Regions from separate parts of the Homo sapiens genome. Here regions 1, 2 and 3 are each linked to region 4. Evidence: fine-mapped expression QTL. A gene starts in region 4. Each other region holds a variant in brackets. All regions are shown on one strand. Distances are from middle to middle.

Evidence for each region. PIP is the estimated chance that this variant, and not a neighbour inherited with it, causes the effect.
Region 1: its variant is the best candidate, but not a certain one, in a credible set for the expression of PACRGL in prefrontal cortex (BrainSeq, PIP 0.60).
Region 2: its variant is the best candidate, but not a certain one, in a credible set for the expression of PACRGL in pancreas (GTEx, PIP 0.53).
Region 3: its variant is the best candidate, but not a certain one, in a credible set for the expression of PACRGL in liver (GTEx, PIP 0.79).

Annotation. Positions count from the first base shown.
Region 1 is chr4:20,742,530-20,747,375 of GRCh38, reverse strand. The region is part of intron 5 of KCNIP4 (potassium voltage-gated channel interacting protein 4); the gene reads left to right. It also overlaps a transcript of PACRGL not described here. Among named protein-coding and RNA genes, the nearest start is that of PACRGL, 44 kb to the right of the region's middle. The variant C/T (reference allele first, on the strand shown) is at 2,549.
Region 2 is chr4:20,581,906-20,586,751 of GRCh38, reverse strand. All of the region lies in intron 29 of SLIT2 (slit guidance ligand 2), which reads right to left. Among named protein-coding and RNA genes, the nearest start is that of MIR218-1, 56 kb to the right of the region's middle. The variant G/A (reference allele first, on the strand shown) is at 2,492.
Region 3 is chr4:20,620,786-20,625,631 of GRCh38, reverse strand. No RefSeq gene overlaps it. Among named protein-coding and RNA genes, the nearest start is that of PACRGL, 77 kb to the left of the region's middle. The variant G/A (reference allele first, on the strand shown) is at 2,874.
Region 4 is chr4:20,698,833-20,702,832 of GRCh38, reverse strand. PACRGL (parkin coregulated like) reads right to left here and starts at 2,375. Exons shown (of 9, transcript NM_001258345.3): 1 at 2,046-2,375. RefSeq lists an enhancer at 2,143-2,262.

The sequences.
Region 1 (4,846 bases), 44 kb before region 4:
AAGCCAAAGGTTTTACCTAATATAGTTCACCTAATATAAACTTTTATAGCTGGCTTCCAGAGGATGAGTAAGGCAAAAACTATTAGTGACTCCATTACTTGAAATTACTTATGTGTCAGAAATATACCACCAATTTCCTAGGGCACATTATATCCAATTTTATATGTAAATTTAGTATGGTGTTAATGATATGGAACCATGCATAACATTGCTTTTATAATATTTATGTAAAATACCAGTAATTGCAATGAACGTTGATTATAATTTGGGAAATTAGTTGTAATGATTATATATGATATGCATGTTGGTAAAATGCCTTTCCTTTTAAATGAAAACTAATGGCTAAATTAATAAAGTTTGAATGAAAATCAAATTTAAAACTAGGCTGTTGCAGTTACTTTTCTAAATTGATTAGCTACCTGGGAAATCTCTAGAAAATAGAAATGGTTAGGGAATGAACACATTTTGAATAATAGCAATAGCATACTGAGAGGTACAGTAGAGAGACCATCTGATTCTACGATAAAGGGTAATGGGAGTTTTCCACTTAATTTGCTTAAACCTGAAAGGCAGAAGAAATATGATAGGAGGGGCCCTGGATTTGGTATGATGGGATCTAATCTCCATTTTGCCACCCAGCGGCTCTGAGACCCTAGGCTGAGTACTTAACCTTCTTAACCTTAGCATTCATACTGCTAAAACATCAGCAATCAAAGCTACTTAATAAGATAATGTAAAAATGAAAAAGTCATAATGTCAGTAAAGGGCTTGGCTCTGTGTCTGGCACCAAATATGTGCTCAGTAGTTATTAGATGTTAACTATAGCAGTTATCAGTTGGGGGATTTTTTTTTTAATTATACTTTAAGTTCTGGGATACATGTGCAGAGTGTGCATTTTTGTCACATAGGTATACACGTGCCATGGTGGTTTGCTGCACCCATCAACTCATCACCTACATTAGGTATTTCTGCTAATATTATCCCTCCCCTAGCCCCCCACCCTCCGACATGCCCTGGTGTGTGATGTTCCCCTTCCTATGTCCGTGTGTTCTCATTGTTCAATTCCCAGCTATGAGTGAGAACATGCAATGTTTGGTTTACTGTTCTCATGATAGTTTGCTGAGAATGACGGTTTCCAGCTTCATTCCCCACAAAGGACATGAACTCATCCTTTTTTATGGCTGCATAGTATTCCATGGTGTATATGTGCCACGTTTTCTTTATCCAGTGTATTATTGATGGACATTTGGGTTGGTTCCAAGTCTTTGCTATTGTGAATAGTGCTGCAATACATATACATGTGTATGTGTCTTTATAGTAGAATGATTTATAATCCTTTAGGTATATACCCAGTAATGGGATGGCTGTGTCAAATGGTATTTCTAGTTCTAGATCCTTGAGGAATCGCCACAGTCTTCCACAATGGTTGAACTAATTTACACTAGTTGGGGGAATTTTTCTAACAAAGCCAGTTAATAATGACATTGGTCATCTCATTACCCAGTAAGGCAACTACATGCAAATGCATCATTCTAAGCCATAGCAGTCTTTGATTGGCAGGGAGTCAGGGGAGTCAGGAGGATTGTCCCCAGCATAGTGGCCAGCACTGAGGCACTCATTAAAGGTTTGGCAGATGAACAGAATCCACAACTGAACAAGTCTAGGCTATTATAAAGTCAAATCTCTATGTCTTTCTCCTTTTGCCTTGATAATAAGAGAATGGAAACCAGAATTCGGTACAGACCTCTCCACCCCTTTATCATTTTTTGTACTTTAGGGAACAGATATAACCTCCTTTCACATTTACAAGTAAAGTAATTGTGCAAAGTACTCATTGAGAGTTGTTGTTAAGTTTGTCACTTCCTACTTGAGACTTCAATTACAACTCAGAAAAGCACGGAGCAAAAGTCTTATAAGCCACATTAAGTTTCTCATTTTTCTTTTGCACGAAAAGATATCATTCCTGTTTTGAGTAACTCTTTACTGATATCATCCCACAGGATAAAAAGAGAGAGGTGCTCTAAGACCATAGCTATCTTTTAATGTAAATTGTTTCAGGATATACAGTATTCAAGAAGATGTGAATTAGATGTCACCATGTGAATCAGGATACTTTTGTTCACAAATACTAGAAAAGGATACACCAAGTGACAAAAAAAAATGGTAATTTCATTGGTTCACAGCAACAAAAAGGCCAGAGATGGGGCTGGCTACAACCTAAGGGTGGGACCCTGTAGGGCTGCAAGAAGAGGCCAAAGCTCCTTGGCTCCATGATTCATTGCTCCTGTTGAGCAAGGAAAGAAGCACATCTCTGTCCTACCATTCCTAGCAAGAGTCTGAGTCTGGGGAGTCATTCTTAGACCTGGACTAGGTTTAGTCAAATGGCAACCACAAATCCAGTTGTCCGGCCAAAGGGATAAAATGTGCTTCCTGACTTCGCCCAGGTCATGGCTCTATCACTAGACTCAGAGATGAAGTGAACTTCCACAGAACATCATGGAGCACCAAATGGAAATTTGGGACCTACTAGGGCTAGGGAGGCAAACAA[C/T]ACAAGTCCACACTTGACTTAAACGTGCTATCTTTATTTTTATTTTATATTTTTATTATTATTATTCTTTAAGTTCTAGGGTACATGTGCAAAATGTGCAGGTTTGTTACATATGTATACATGTGCCATGTTGGTGTGCTGCACCCATTAACACGTCATTTACATTATTTATTTCTCCTAATGCTATCCCTCCCCCATCCCCCTGACCCCTCATCAGGCCCCCGTGTGTGATGTTCTCCATCCTATGTCCAAGTGTTCTCATTTTTCAATTCCCACCTATGAGTGAGAACATGCGGTGTTTGGTTTTCTGTCCTTGCGATAGTTTGCTGAGAGTGATGGTTTCCAGCTTCATCCATGTCCCTACAAAGGACATGAACTCATCCTTTTTATGGCTGTATAGTGCCATATTTTCTTAATCCAGTATATGTGCCACATTTTCTTAATCCAGTCTATCATTGATGGACATTTGGGTTGGTACCAAGTCTTTGCTACTGTGAATAGTGCCGCAATAAACATACATGTGCATGTGTCTTTAAAGCAGCATGATTTATAATCCTTTGGGTGTATACCCAGTAATGGGATTGCTGGGTCAAATGGTATTTCTAGTTCTAGCTCCTTGAGGAGTCACCAGTCTTCCACAATGGTTGAACTAGTTTACAGTCCCACCAACAGTGCAAAAGTGTTCCTATTTCTCCACATCCTCTCCAGCATCTGTTGTTTCCTGACTTCTTAATGATTGTCATTCTAACTGGTGTGAGATGGTATCTCATTGTGGTTTTGATTTGCATTTCTCTGATGGCCAGTGATGATGAGCATTTTTTCATGTGTCTGGTGGCTGCATAAATGTCTTCTTTTGAGAAGAGTCTGTTCATATCCTTTGCCCACTTTTTGAAGGGTTTTTTTTTTTCTTGTAAATTTAATTTCTTTGTAGATTCTGGATATTAGCCCTTTGTCAGATGAGTAGGTTGCGAAAATTTTCTCCCATTTTGTAGGTTGCCTGTTCACTCTGATGGTAGTTTCTTTTGCTGTGCAGAAGTTCCTTAGTTTAATTAGATCCCATTTGTCAATTTTGGCTTTTGTTGCCATTGCTTTTGGTGTTTTAGACATGAAGTCCTTGCCCATGCCTATGTCCTGAATGGTATTGCCTAGGTTTTCTTCTAGGGTTTTTATGGTTTTAGGTCTAATGTTTAAGTCTTTAATCCATCTTGAATTAATTTTTGTATAAAGTGTAAGGAAGGGATCCAGTTTCAGCTTTCTACATATGGCTAGCCAGTTTTCCCAGCACCATTTATTAAATAGGGAATCCTTTCCCCATTGCTTGTTTCTGTCAGGTTTGTCAAAGATCAGATGGTTGTAGATGTGTGGTATTATTTCCGAGGGCTCTGTTCTGTTCCATTGGTCTATATCTCTGTTTTGGTACCAGTACCATGCTGTTTTGGTTACTGTAGCCTTGTAGTATAGTTTGAAGTCAGGCAGCATGATGTCTCCAGCTTTGTTCTTTTGGCTTAGGATTGACTTGGCAATGTGGGCTCTGTTTTGGTTCCATATGAACTTTAAAGTAGTTTTTTCCAATTTTGTGAAGAAAGTCATTGGTAGCTTGATGGGGATGGCACTGAATCTATAAATTACACCTTGGGCAGTATGGCCATGTTCACGATATGGATTCTTCCTATCCATGAACATGGAATGTTCTTCCATTTGTTTGTGTCCTCTTTTATTTCATTGAGCAGTGGTTCGTAGTTCACATAAGGGTGAACTTATAAGGGTCCTTCACACCCTTATAAGGGTCCTTCACACCCTTATAAGGGTCCTTCACATCCCATATAAGTTGGATTCCTAGGTATTTTATTATCTTTGAAGCAATTGTGAATGGGAGTTCACTCATGATTTGGCTCTGTTTGTCTATTATTGGTGTATAGGAATGCCTGTGATTTTTGCACATTGATTTTTGTACCCTGAGACTTCGCTTAAGTTGCTTATCAGTTTAAGGAGATTTTGGGCTGAGACGACAGGGTTTTCTAAATATACAATCATGTCATCCGCAAACAGGGAAAATTTGACTTCTTCTTTCCCTAATTGAATACCCTTTATTTCCTTCTCCTGCCTGATTGCCCTGGCCAGAACTTCCAACACTATGTTGAATAGGAGTGGTGAGAGAGGGCATCCCTGTCTTGTGCCAGTTTTCAAAGGGAATGAGTCCAGTTTTTGCCCATTCAGTATGATATTGGCTGTGGGTTTGCCATAAATAGCTCTTATTTTGAGATACGTCCCATTAATACCTAGTTTATTGAGAGTTTT
Region 2 (4,846 bases), 120 kb after region 4:
CTATTTCTTCTCTATCTCTAATTTTATATTGTGTTTGACTATGCCTATCTTATGACATATACATGGTATATATTTGTTTATGTACTTAATGAGCATTTATATCATGCTTACTACTGTATGCTAAACAGTTTTAAACACTGTATAAATATGCAGTCACTTAATATTCATTACAAGCATATAAGGTAAGGTTTTAGGGTTGCACTGTTATGTGTGCATTTTATATTACTGGTGTTTATCTGACTCTCTTTTCTCGACTGTAAAATCACTAAGAGTAGAATTCTTGCCACATTTGCTTTTGTGTTTTTTCCAGAGTGTGGTATGCTGACATACTCAAATAATAGTCATTAAAAGGAGGAATCATGCTTTTTAAGGCAAGAGCTCTATCTTGTTGACCTGTAATCAACTCAGATTTCATTCTAGCCTTTAGAGATTAGTGTAATTTTTTGCTTAATTACTCACTCATGATTAGTAATAACATAGCTTATGCTATTCTCTTTAAACATTACTGTGAATTTTCCCTGACTAAATATTAACATGAATGTTTTCATTGGACTGTTTCTTTAATTTTCCTTAATTATATTGGATTCTGCTATACTTGAGGGAAGGACCGCTTTCAAAAGAGTGCAACAGTGGCGAGATTCAGGAGCTCAATATAAGAAGGGAAACTTAGCAAGCTCCTTAGATGAATACTGGCCTGCATGTCTACTTCTCAACCAGTAAGAGGAAATTAGACAGCTAAAAGCTGCACTGGTTTTCCAGGAAGAATAGAGATAAAATGACTAACATTAGTCAGCTAATGTATTTTTAGTTACCAATATTGAAAAGTTCCCCCAAACCTCATAGTATTGTGAGGACATGATGCCATTTTTACTTGGTTTTTATTTTAAGTGTAGTCAGAGCTAGTACTGAGTTAGTGGAAAAATAATAAAAAATAGGGGAATTGAGTTTGCTTTTGTGATGGCTCAGGTCCTGAGATAATATTATCAATGGCTGCCTCCCTTTCAGAGATGATAAAGTGTGAGGTGACAGAAAGGAAAACTGGAAATATTCTTTATTCGACTATACAGAGTTAGTGTTGTAAATGATTACCCTATAAGCAGGTCTTAATACGTTTAAACTGACATCAAGAAAGATAAGTCAATCCATTGGAGTGGTTTGGGGCAATGTGGTTGAATATAGGTTAAATGTTGGTGTCTATGAGCCTCTCAAGAGATAGGAGCCTAGGCAAGCCTTGACTCCATGATCTGGCTTCAACCCATTCCTCTAAATCCCAGGAAATCCTATTTATTTATTTTCAGCCATGGGCCCTTAAAATTTCCCAATAGTGTGGAACACAGTCATTGCCTGGCATTTGTGATTTCACTTTTGATCAGATGAGCAAATTAATTTTCCTTATGATTCTAGTTTTCATCTCTTGTTGATAAGAGGTTGAAGCATTCTGAGTGTACGTATATATGTTGGTTGTGTATGTTTTGGCGAGAAAACAAAGAGTGGTCCATCAAGGGGTCTATGGTTACCTCTTCAGGATAAGAGAGGTTAGTAAATGATCTACTGTAACTGGTAATAAATATTGCTGGTAACCAATATCTGCGAATGCCAGAACTTTCTTAAGAAAAAGTGCTACATGTTGTAAACAGAGGAATCTTTTTGACATAGAGGTTGTTTTTTTTTGTTGTTTTTTGTTTTTTGTTTTTTTTGAGATAGAGTCTTGCTCTGTCAGTCAGGCTGGAGTGCAGTGTCGTGATCTTGGCTCACTGTAACCTCTGCCTCCCAGGCTCAAGTGATTCTCCTGCCTCAGCCTCCTGAGTAGCTGGGATTACAGGCACATGCCACCATGCCCAGCTAATTTTTGTATTTTAAGTAGAGACGGGGTTTCACCATGTTGGGCATGCTGGTCTCAAACTCCTGACCTCAACTGATCCTCCCACCTTGGCCTCCCAAAGTGCTGGGATTACAGGTATAGAGTTTTATCTGTTTCTTAGATCACCTCTTCCTGATTTTGTCTGTCGGTTATATATGGGACACAACAGGACAAGAAATGACCAAGTTCTACAGTAACACTATTACAACTTGTGAAAGAGCATGCCAAAAGTGATACCCACTCTTCTAAATGGGAATGATTTTTCAGACTCACTCTTGAAGGGGAGATAAAATGCTACTTACTGAATATCTGTGAATGTGTTTCTTCTGAAAAATTTCATGGAGTGGTAATGTGCCCATTCATTCTTGCTTGTACAACCGTCCTGGTTTATACCCGTTGTCCCAACGTAATTGTCAATAGTGTGCCTGGGCACTCACATAACTACCCTGATTTGGATGATAAATGTTATGGGTCACCTTCTAGGTGGAACAGTAAAAAGCTGGATCATCAGAGTTGATAATACTCTGGAGTGAAGAGTGAATCAGCATAAAGAGACCTCAGGAAGTAACTGTTCTTATTGGGGAAAATGACATTTGGTTAGTTGTATTATTGTCTAGGATGGCCTTCTAC[G/A]GTTGTATGCAATATACGAGAGTTGACTGGTTGCAGAACTATTTTATTGTTCTCAGCCTCAGTTCTTCATCAGTAAACTGAGGCTCTGGAATTAGAGATGTGTAAGGTTAACTGTGGCTCTAAAAAAATCCCTTTTTTTCAATAAAAAGGAAAATGCTTCTGAAGATATGGATCATGCAGACAGCAAGTTACCAGAGGGAGTATCACACTTAGCTGTACAAAATAACATTACTTCATTCAGCGGTAAAAATAAAGTGCCAGCATATGTTCAGAGCCCCCTGTGGTACTGATATTGTGAGTATTATTGCACTGAGGAAGAAACCTCAATGCACTTTGATGGTTTTTATGAGAAATAATACCTGGAGTTTGGCCTTACCTTCTGCTTCATTTTAGATCTATGAACCTAACTTTTTTATTTTTATTTTATTTTTATTATTATTATTATTATTTTTGTGATGGAGTCTCATTCTGTCGCCCAGGCTGGAGTGCAGTGGCATGATCTTGGCTCACTGCAACCTCTGCCTCCTGGGTTCAAACGATTCTCCTGTCTCAGCCTCCCCAGTAGCTGGGACTACAGGTGCGCACCACCATGCCCAGCTAAATTTTGTACTTTTAGTAGAGATGAGGTGTCACCATGTTGGCCAGGATGGTCTCATCTCTTGACCCTGTGATCCACCCACCTCAGCCTCCCAAAGTCTTGGGATTACAGGCGTGAGCCACTGTGCCCGGCCTGAACCTAACTGTTTTTAATGCTCCTTCCTTGTTTAACACAAAGGGGCCCTTCCTATTGCCTTCATTTCTACTTCCTTCCTAGTATCTTGTTATCTTTGTGTTTAAATTTGTTACCATACTTACTGAAATAGTTTTAGAACTATTCTACAAAGCTCTTCCCTGATACTTACAGAATGATCTGCCTATAGCTTTTTCAAATAATTAAAACAGCAAATCAGATTTTTAACATCACCATATATTTTGAGTCCCAACTATGAATGGGGACCTCTACCAATGCTAGAAGTATAATGGTAAACAACAACAACAACAACAACAAACTATTCCTATTTCCACAGAGTTTATGTATGAGAGGAGGAGGAGAAAGATATTAATTCAGTAATTTCCCAAGTAAAGTAGTCCCCCTTTATCGGCAGTTTTGTTTTCTGTGGTTTCAGTTCCCCACTGTTAACAGCGGCCAAAACATATTAAATGGAAAATTCCAGAAATAAACAATTCGTAAGTCTTGAATTGCATGAGTTCTGAGTAGCTTGGTGAAATCTTGTTCCATTCTGCTCCATCACACCCAGCACGTAAATTATCTCTATCCAGGGTATCTGGCTGAAGAAGCCTCCTGCCCATCAGTCACTTATGAGCCATCTCAGTTATCAAATCTGTTGTCGTGGTATCACAGTCATCCTGTTCAAGGAAACCTTATTTTACTTAATAATGGCCCCAAAGTGCAAGAGTAGTGATGTTGGTAATTTGGACAAGCCCAAGAGAAACTGTCAAGTGCTTCCTTTAAGTGAAAAGGTAAAAGTTCTTAACTTAATAAGGAAAGAGAGAAAAATTGTACACTGAGGATGCTAAGATCTACCGCAAAAATGAATCTCCTATCTCTGCAAAGTTGTGAACAAGGGAAAAAGAAATTCATACTAGTTTTGCTGTCATACCTCAAACTGCAAAAGTTACAGCCACCATGCATGCTAAGGGCTTACTTGGGATGAAGAGGGATTCAGTGTGTGGGTTGAAAGACATGAACAGAAACATGTTCTGATTGATAGCAACTGGCTTCAGTACTATTTGTGGTTTCAGGCATCTACTGAGGGTCTTGGAACGTATCACCCGCAGATAACGAGGGGACTACTATATGCATAAAATTGCCTCTGTGCTGAATGCTAAGCAGGAACATTTTATGGGGCCCTAGAAAGGGACTGTTTCCTCTGAAGAAGGACAGGAGAGATTCTTCTGAAGAGGTGAGACTCAGAGGCAAGGGTGAAGTGGAGAATGAAGAGCTCTGACAGAGGCTTCTGCAGGAGGCAGCATGAAGAACAGGAGCCCTAAGAGATGGGGAGTGAGCCCGGGAAAACATGGTGCCAGAGGAGCCCCAGAGGCTGGCTGGGCCACAGGGTCGAAGGTCTTCATTCTATGAATAATAGGCTCCCACTGAAAGGTTTTGAGTCGGGGCATGGCCAGATGACATCTGCACTTTGAAAAGAGCACTCTGGCTGGGCACAGTGGCTCACGCCTGTAATCCCAGCACTTTGGGAGGCCAAGGCGAGCAGATCACCTGAGGTCAGGAGTTTGAGACAAGCCTGGCCAAGATGGTGAAACCCCGTCTCTACTAAAAATACAAAAATTAGCCAG
Region 3 (4,846 bases), 78 kb after region 4:
TGCACTTCCTCATTCTCAAACTGTCTTTTCTATTGGTACAATTGTGTGTCAATTTTCTAAAATATGGAAGCATTTACAAGAAAAGGGAAAAAAGGAAAACAAGTTTAAATGAGGAAACAGAGATATAATGATTTCTACTTCCTTTACTGAACTGTTAGACCAGCAGGTGCTTTTTTGCCAAATGATAAGTGATTTATTTCCCAATCAAACAGGGTATTGTACGTGTCATTCAGAAATGTGTTCCTGCTCATTCAGAGCTCTGAAAAAGAGTTGACAAACATCAGAGGAGAATTGTGGCTAACGCAGAAATAATAGGAAGAAAAAAATCAATGTAGAGATGTAATTGAAGGTAAGATGTAATTGAAAGTGGTAGAGGTAATTGAATGGTAATATTGTGAGCAGAGAGCAAGCAGGATCAAGCAAGTGCAAGATTAGGCAATTCAAAGATGTTCATCTTTCTCCTTTCTGAGATAACACAGGCCCCTGAGATTATGGTTAAGGGACATTATCAAACATGCTCATTCAAATAGAAATTCCTCTATAGCTTTTTTTTTTTTTATCTTTGTCTCTTTTTTCCTTACAAAGAATATCTGTGAGCTGGATTGAGTCCAAGAATGTGACTTTGCAGCTGATATAACTGGACTACGGCATGTTTGGTCCTGTCCTTGTGACTATCTTAGCAATGGAATTCAATTGCTCCAGGTCAGCCCACTCAATCAAGGCATATCTGACCAGAAAAATGACCAAAAATACTGAAGCAACCATGTACATTCCCATCCCTCCGTTTTCATTTTTTGGAAGCAAATTTCACTAAAAAGCACTATTTATTTTCCTTTACCCAGTGGGAGATATTTAAAAAATGCATTTTTATTGGGAAAGTGAGTGCTATTCATGGGCATTTTTTCAAACCAAAATAACTCCCCTTGAGAAATACTTACTCCTCCAGCATTATCTCACGGGGTTGTTGATAGAGTTTGCCTTTCAATTCCAGTGAAATCAATATTGCATTATGGCTGGAGTCAGGAGACCTGGATTGTGCGACCTTGGGCAAGTCACTTAATCTCTCTGCAACCATCTATGTGAAAAAAACAATGAAAATAATTCTAGCCACTTCAAGAAGGGAGAGTTAGATTAATCATAGCAGATTTTCTAGACAATCGTCTCTGTGGCTGTTTCTTACACTCCCTGTTTTCTTGTGTGTGCTTTTTAATTTTTGATTCTCTTTTGAATCTAAATTCAGCTGGCCACTTATTGACACAATGACAAAGCTAATTCCCAATGCCGATGGTGATGCCTCTGCTCAGCTGAATTTAATATCTCTGGACAAAGCCCTTGAAATGCTGTATCCCCTTTGTGAGGGGAAGAGGAGGAAGGCAATGGAGAACTCCATTTGGTAAAGAATTCTTGCATATACATTGCTCTCTTCACTCTGAGTGATTTTGTGACTTCTTACTCTCAGGCATCCTGTTTCCTCAACCTCACTGTATCTGGCTTCTGCTTTTTACATCCACTGATCAACAAGCTTATGTAAGGGATGACTTAGGTTGGTCTTGCTCTTCCAGCCTGGTTCTCAGGATGGTCCCCAGAGTATACCTCAAGTGCTTGCCCCACTTCTTTACAAGCTGTTACTATAGGTGATAAACCAATACTTATTGATTCATTGAATGACAACCCTGTGACCTCACCAACTTTTCCAGCTGCCATTCCCTCTTCTTCTTTTGTTATCAGACTTATTAAGAGAACAGTCTATTATTCCTTACCCACGACTAGCCAGTGACTACCTCATTGCTTTCTTTCTTTCTTCCCCTTTCTTTCTCTCTATTCTGGGACTGCTTCATTCCAGAAATGGATCATCTAAAGTGGGGTTAGTTTTCTGGTTAAGTTCATTCTGTTGTGTTTCTAATTTAGCTTGCCCGTTTTCTTAGCTTCAACTACCACCTGTATGTGGATGAATCTCATATCCACAAGGTGGCCATTCCAGCCCAGAAATTGCTTTCCAATATCCCTCCCTAGCATTTGTCAATCTAAGAGCACATACTGAAGGCCGATTTGAGACCACTATGTGAGTAATCTGGAATACCAAACTAAAGAGTTTGGATTTTATCTTACAGTGGGAGTTAGAGATATGTTTTCAAATAATCTAGAGGAATACATTGTTTTCACTCAACAGAGCAGAGGGTGGGTTGGAGGTCAGAAGGCTAGGGTTTCCCAGCCCAATGCAGTCACCATGATGTCACTAAAACTCAGATTTTAATTGACACCTAATGAACAGATATTTTCTGCTACGTTTCCAGTTGATTCATTTCCCAAGTCTCTGGTCTTGGTATGAACAGGGCAGGAAAAATGCACATGAGATTCAAAGCATGCATTGGCCAGCGGTTGTTTTTTTTCAATCCAGCTTTATCAGCCCTCAGTTCATGAATATTCACTACTATTCTTAATTTTCAGTGCTACTTCAAGTATTTCTATTTTCCATATCCTCAGAGATATTTCATTTGGAAGTTTAGAGGAGCTACATTAGGCACAGCCAAATAGCTGCTATTTTAAAATGGAAATCCCTTCTTGTTGATGTTTTGAGACCTCACTGCAAACAGATGCTCAGAAGAAAAATATGGACTATATGGTGAATTAAGAAATCCTGAAAATGGTCACTGTTGTGTTACACACAAGAAGCAATTGTATACCTCACAGCAGCCACACTAAGTTCTTTTGTTTCCTTGACCACATGAGTTATTTTCCTCCTCTGGCCTACACACAGGCTGCTCTCTCTGCGTGAACTCCCAACCCCTATCCTTACACAAGCTTCCATCTGCCTCCATCCTAGACTCTATTTGATCCTTCATGACTTGGTTTAAATGTCACTTCCTCAGAGA[G/A]GCATTCCCAAACCTCCTTACACTTATTTGATTGGATTCCTCTGCTATTCTTTCTTCTAATATCACATAACTTCCTTCAGGATGCTTATCACAATCTGGAATTATGTATCAGTGTGACCATTTGTATAATATCTATTATCCACTTCAACTTCAACCCCAACTGCATAGAGTGTAAGCTCTAAAATGGCTGAAGTGATGTCTGTTTCATGTGAAACTGTATATCAAAAGTTTAGTGTAGCTTCTTGCACATGATAGGAGATAGGAAATATAGATGTGTTGTTAACTGATTTTTGAATACATAGGAATAAAAATGAAGATAAGTATGTAAAACTTTGTATGAAGCTTCCTATCCTTGTATAGCTTCCTTTCTTGTGAATGTTATTTTTGAAATAATGGTCACTCCATGAGGTAGATGACACCATAAAGCTTGAGGTCTTTAAGGACTGAATCAATTTCAACAGTCTTTTGATCATTTCTCCAGAAAGAATTGCTGCTGACAAAGCAAATCACCCAAAAAAGAAAACTCTCAGAGCAATTTAAAAATAGGGGTTCATCTATATTGCTTAGAAATAATTTCAGAAAATCTGTAGTGAAAACAAATTCCAAAGATGACTGAGATGGTTGTTATTCAATGAACACATTTTAAATCAAACACATGTCAGACCCCTATGGCATTTCCTGATGGTGCCTCATTCATGTGAGAATTTAAATTAAAATACATTAGAGATGTTTAGCCACTTTATCATTTCATATTACAATGCACATTATTCCATGTATAGCTTTGATTCTAAAATGCATGATTTTTTTTTTGTTTTTAATGCATAGAGTTCTGTTGGATATGCTCTGGAATAGTTTCCTATTTAAAGTAATCCTATTGGCAAGACCTTCTAAGTAAGGAACCTTTTATAATATGAATAATTACCCTAAATTTATCTTGTTTGTTAGTAATTACTTGGCTATTGGATTTATTTTTAAAGGGTGCATGCACAGGAGACAGTGACATCTCAAGGCAAACAATCCCCTAAGAAACTTGCTAATTCAGCTCATATCTCAGACAGCCGTCATTTTATTTTGTGTCTTTATAAGCAGGAAGGAGAAAAAACACAGTCTGGAAGCTATGAAGGTTTCACTTTTGTTTTCCTTAAAAAATGAAATAGCAAATGTAAAGTCTCTAGTCTGGATTACTTAAAACTACATAATCAAGAAGGAAAAATTATTGGGCTGTGGAATAAGGCTCCAAGGCTTGAAAGTCCCCAAGTAGAGGTAGTAGTTACTAAGCTGTTGCCCTAATTACAGACAATGTGGTCTGGAACACCTGACTGAGGTGGATCCAGCTCCTCTGTTTATGAGCCCTGTATGCATGTATAAAGCAGAAAGTGCAATAATCTCATGGTTTTATATACATTAATGAGATATTTCATAGAAAACCCTGAGCATAGTACCTGGCATATAAGAAGCACTCAAAAAACAGTGGCTATATGGATAATACATGTCTGTAAACACAAATCTAAATCACGTCATCGTCACAGATGTTTCTTTGTTTAATGAATGATTTAAACCCCTTGGAAAAAAGAAGTAATCAATGGGAATAAATAATTTACAATAGCTATACAATTGTCTCTATAATTACAATTTAGACATTTTAAACAAGAATGAATAAATAGTTGGATGTCTGTGTCTGTGAGAGAGACCGAGTGTGTATGTGTGTGTGTGTGTGCATGGTTTTTTGTTTGTTTGTTTGTTTACAGGGAAACAAAGACAAAATCTTATCATGGTTGATGAGGATTATTCCTCCCAGACAATGTTGTTTCTCTGTCCTGGATAGTACACCTTCATGTTACCAACCCTGGCCTAAGAGTGGCTGTCTTTTATTGTTTTCTACCTGGTTCTATTGGGGAGGGAGAAACAAAGAAGAACAAAAACAAAAACATTTCATCTTAGATAGACTTCATCTTACAATTTTTTTGAAAAAA
Region 4 (4,000 bases):
ATTTTCTAATACTACGGTAATTAAAATCTCATTAAAGTTGTCAGATAATAGTCTAAAATAAGCTGAGAGAAGCTTTAAATATGTTAACCTACTATTGTACTTCTGTGATCATTCAACAAGTATTTAATATTGTGCCTGACTTCTGTTTTGAGAAGCTCCTGGAGGGGGAACAACACAAGTTTCTATTGAAAAAAAAAATGCATCAGTTTCCTCAACTCTATAATTGGGCATAATTACAGGAACTACTTTAAGTGTTGATGAAGACTAGTAAGAATATATGTAAAACAACATTTCCATAATGGGAGGCATGCAGTAAGGGCCACATGAGTCTTAGCTATTATTATAATTTTCTTTACAATGGTACAAAGTGTTCTTCAGTATTACTATTACTAATAGTGAAACCACATGTTTTGTCATTTTTAAAAAATCTGGCTTAACATCTTGGGCTACATCAATTTGAAGACCAGCTGAGGTCCAATTTCTCTTGATCATCAATTGTTAACAGCTGCAACAGATAAAAGCGATGCACAGCAAAGACGCGTACCCACAAACATAACAAGGGCACAGGCAGCCATATCAAATTATGATGCACATTTTTCAATACTACCTACCAATTCAGTGGAAGTTTTGGATGGAATTTTATGGCTAAATTTCTATCTTCCTTCACGTCAAAAAGTTGTTCCTGTAACAAACTAATGGGGAGGTGTTGCATTATATTTTGAATGAGTTCAAAAAGTCACCAAAACTCATTTGAAAAAGTTTTAAACATGGTAGAAAATCGAGCTTCTACAGTTTATGAGTATACAGGACAACTTTTATGTACAATATATAATTTTCAGCATTAAACATACAGTAATGCAAACACGTCTACATCCCCTTTCAAAATCCTGTATTAGAGAATTTCCTTCCAAAACAATTGCTTTTTCACTTAAAATTTTTATCCTTTACCTTAACGACAAATTACAGTTGGCTCTCCGTATATGCGGGTTCCACATCTATAGATTTGACCCAACCACGGATACGGAGAGCAGACTGGAGGACTTTGGCATGGGTGGATTTGGGTATCTGAAAGAGACTGGGGGGAGGGAGGGAGTCCTGGAGCCAATTCTCCACGGACACCAAGGGACGACGGGAAATGTAGTCAATTTTTTAAAATAATATCCACCTGGAAGCATGCCACTGACAAGCCTGGAGCATGAGTTGTTTGTGAAAGCAAGCTTTAAAAATCTTATCCTTGGTAACCCTTTCAAGTGGTTTTTCATTAAATAACATGTAGAGGATGGTGTAAAGGGGCAGTGATGGGGAGAAGCGAACCTGTAAGAACTATTTTGTGTTACAAATATTATCAAGGTCACCGCTCATTCTTTTACAAAACAAGATAAACATTCTAATTATAGATATTAGAATCCATAAATCCACTTAACTTCGAACACCTAAACTATGTCACAATATCAGAAAGCAAACAAACCACCCTATGAAGCCCACACATTCCCCTTAAAGCTTCCTTGGTTGCTACAGGTCATCTATCTACAAGGGACTGCCGGTATCTGTGTCAATGGTAGGAAAGTGTACTTTCTATCATTGTTTGGGCAGCTGATATAGCCTATTTCTTTCCCTGTATGTACTTTCTCCCGTACTCAGCTTTAAGACCACTGAACTAAAACAATTCTCAGTCAGCAGAGCCCTGCTTTCTAATCCAGGTCTAGAAAGTTCCAAACGTGTAAGTAAGAGCCCCACTAAAGAAACCATGTTCCATTTGTAAAGCTCTGTCAAATTCTAAAAGACCCAGAGCCCAATAGTCACTTATCCCAGTCCCTTTTTTACCAGAAAGTAAATTCAAAGGGCCAGTATTAGGGTCGCACAATCTGCTTAGGGGTCTTAGAATCTATTTTCCACCTTCCCAGCCACCCCTCCTACACTCACTTCTAGATACTTAAAGACCAGTCCAGAGCCAGGATGCTATCAAAGTCAGCAAAAGAGGAAGACACAGAAAAAAAATAAAGAAAAAACAGAGATTTTTTAAAGGGGCCGAGGGAGGAGTTTACCAGTTTCAATTAAGGTTAACGAAGGCTACTCTCGACTGACCCTCTACCCCAGGAAAGGAGGGGTACACTCCAAGCGCTCACGATCTCAAGGGTCCTTAGCAACGGGGTCCAGCGGCCCTAGCAACAGATCAGGAAGCAAGCCGGCTTGGCAGAGAGCGCAGACAGGACACCTGTACCCGCGGTTCACGGCTCCGGGGACCCGTTCCTACCGCGCCTCTCTCCCGCCGCGATCCGCACACCAGCTGCCCCCCACCGGGGGGGGCTTATGACCGGCACTCGGTCGGCCAACAACCGCGGCTACCGCCACCGAGCGCCTGCGTTTGGGGAAATGAGGCTCCGCGCGGCCCGCCCCTGAACCTGGTCGCGCCGCGCAATGACGTCAGACGCACGCTGCGTCGTCTAAACCAATGGTAAGAGGTCGCGGAGGCGCCCCAGAAGAGGGTTGCCCAGGCAACCAGGCGCCAGGAGTTCAGGGGGCAGCTCACGCACTGCAGGCGCTGTCTCTGGCGACAAAGGGGCACGTGGTGGAGGATGTTTTTCGAATAAGAGGTCCGGAGAGCAGAGGGACGATGACGGGTTCCCAGTCGCCTGCGCCCTAGCCTCTCTTCAGTCCATGTGCTTAACTCCTAAACGCTTTTCTCGCACACTTAATACTCATTGTTCCTCAGCTATCTTACCCTCAATACTCGGAGAACTGAAGACTGTGAACTCCTCCCCCCGAGTCTTCAGGGGTGAGAGCCGAAGCCATCTGCATGCCCAGCTGTGGGATTTTCTTGTAGTTTCCTGTTCTATCTGGCTAAATCATAAGCCTAGCTGTGGAAATTCGTTTCCTGTCGTATTTTATGAATCTCATATGCTATTGCATTCTTCACAGTATATCCGCATTTAAATAGTAAAAAGCACGATTTTGTGCTCTACATTATTTTTAATAGTAAAAATATTTAATAGTGAAAAGCACGATTTTATGCTCCACATCATAACAAAACTGATGCTGCAGGAAAATGCATATTCCCTTGTATTGCATTCCACCAGCAACAATTTGGGTTGTCATAGTTAAGTCCAAGCCCTTTGGACCTGTCCACTGCACTCCTCTTTAGCATCCTCTACTGTTGCCAACCCAAAGCCCTAACTTTTTGCTTAGGTAACACTAAATTGGCATTGTCTGAGCACTCGAGGCTGTGTAATCCTTCTGTGCTCCTGTAGCTCCATCCTTGCTACTTGACCAGCACCCCAGAAGCATCTTCATTAGATTGTGAGTTTCCTCAGGATAAGGATTTTAACTTTGCCCTTTTTATTTCTCCAGCTTCAAGCATAATGCAGTGGGTATTCAACTAATGTCTTCTGAATGAATAAAATGAATTAATAAATTCTGTCTATGTCTAATTTCTCTAATGTTCTGTGAACCTTGCATACAAATCTAAGTTTTAAAATTTATTATAATGTATTTACCTATCTTTCTCACTAGACTGAAATTGTCTTTATTGCTTTTCTATCCCCAATGCCTAGCGCAATGCATGCTTAACTAACGTTTTTAAAAGGAAAAAGAAATTTTTAAAAAAAAAAATCTTATATCCTGTATCTTCAGCTACTTTTACTTTATAATCTCTCATCTCCAGCTTCCTCAAGACTTATTATATTTTCCTTACTCCTAGCATCTCCAGTGTCAGACTCAGTAGAGCTCCTAGTTCGTGACCTTTTAACCCCTCCTCCCTGGACTATAAGAATGATTTGTATTCAGTATCGCAGAGGAATGACAAGCATATGTGTTCTGGAGTTAAGCTATCTAAAACTCACCACCCCTTATCAGCTATGAGTCCTTGTGGATGACGACTCCTACAAGCCTCAATTTCCTCTTCATTATTGGGTTATTGCGAGACTTAAATTTAAGAGGACAATTGAATACCTGACACATAGGAAGTACTCAATAAGTATTAGCTAGTGCAATTATTCAGGTG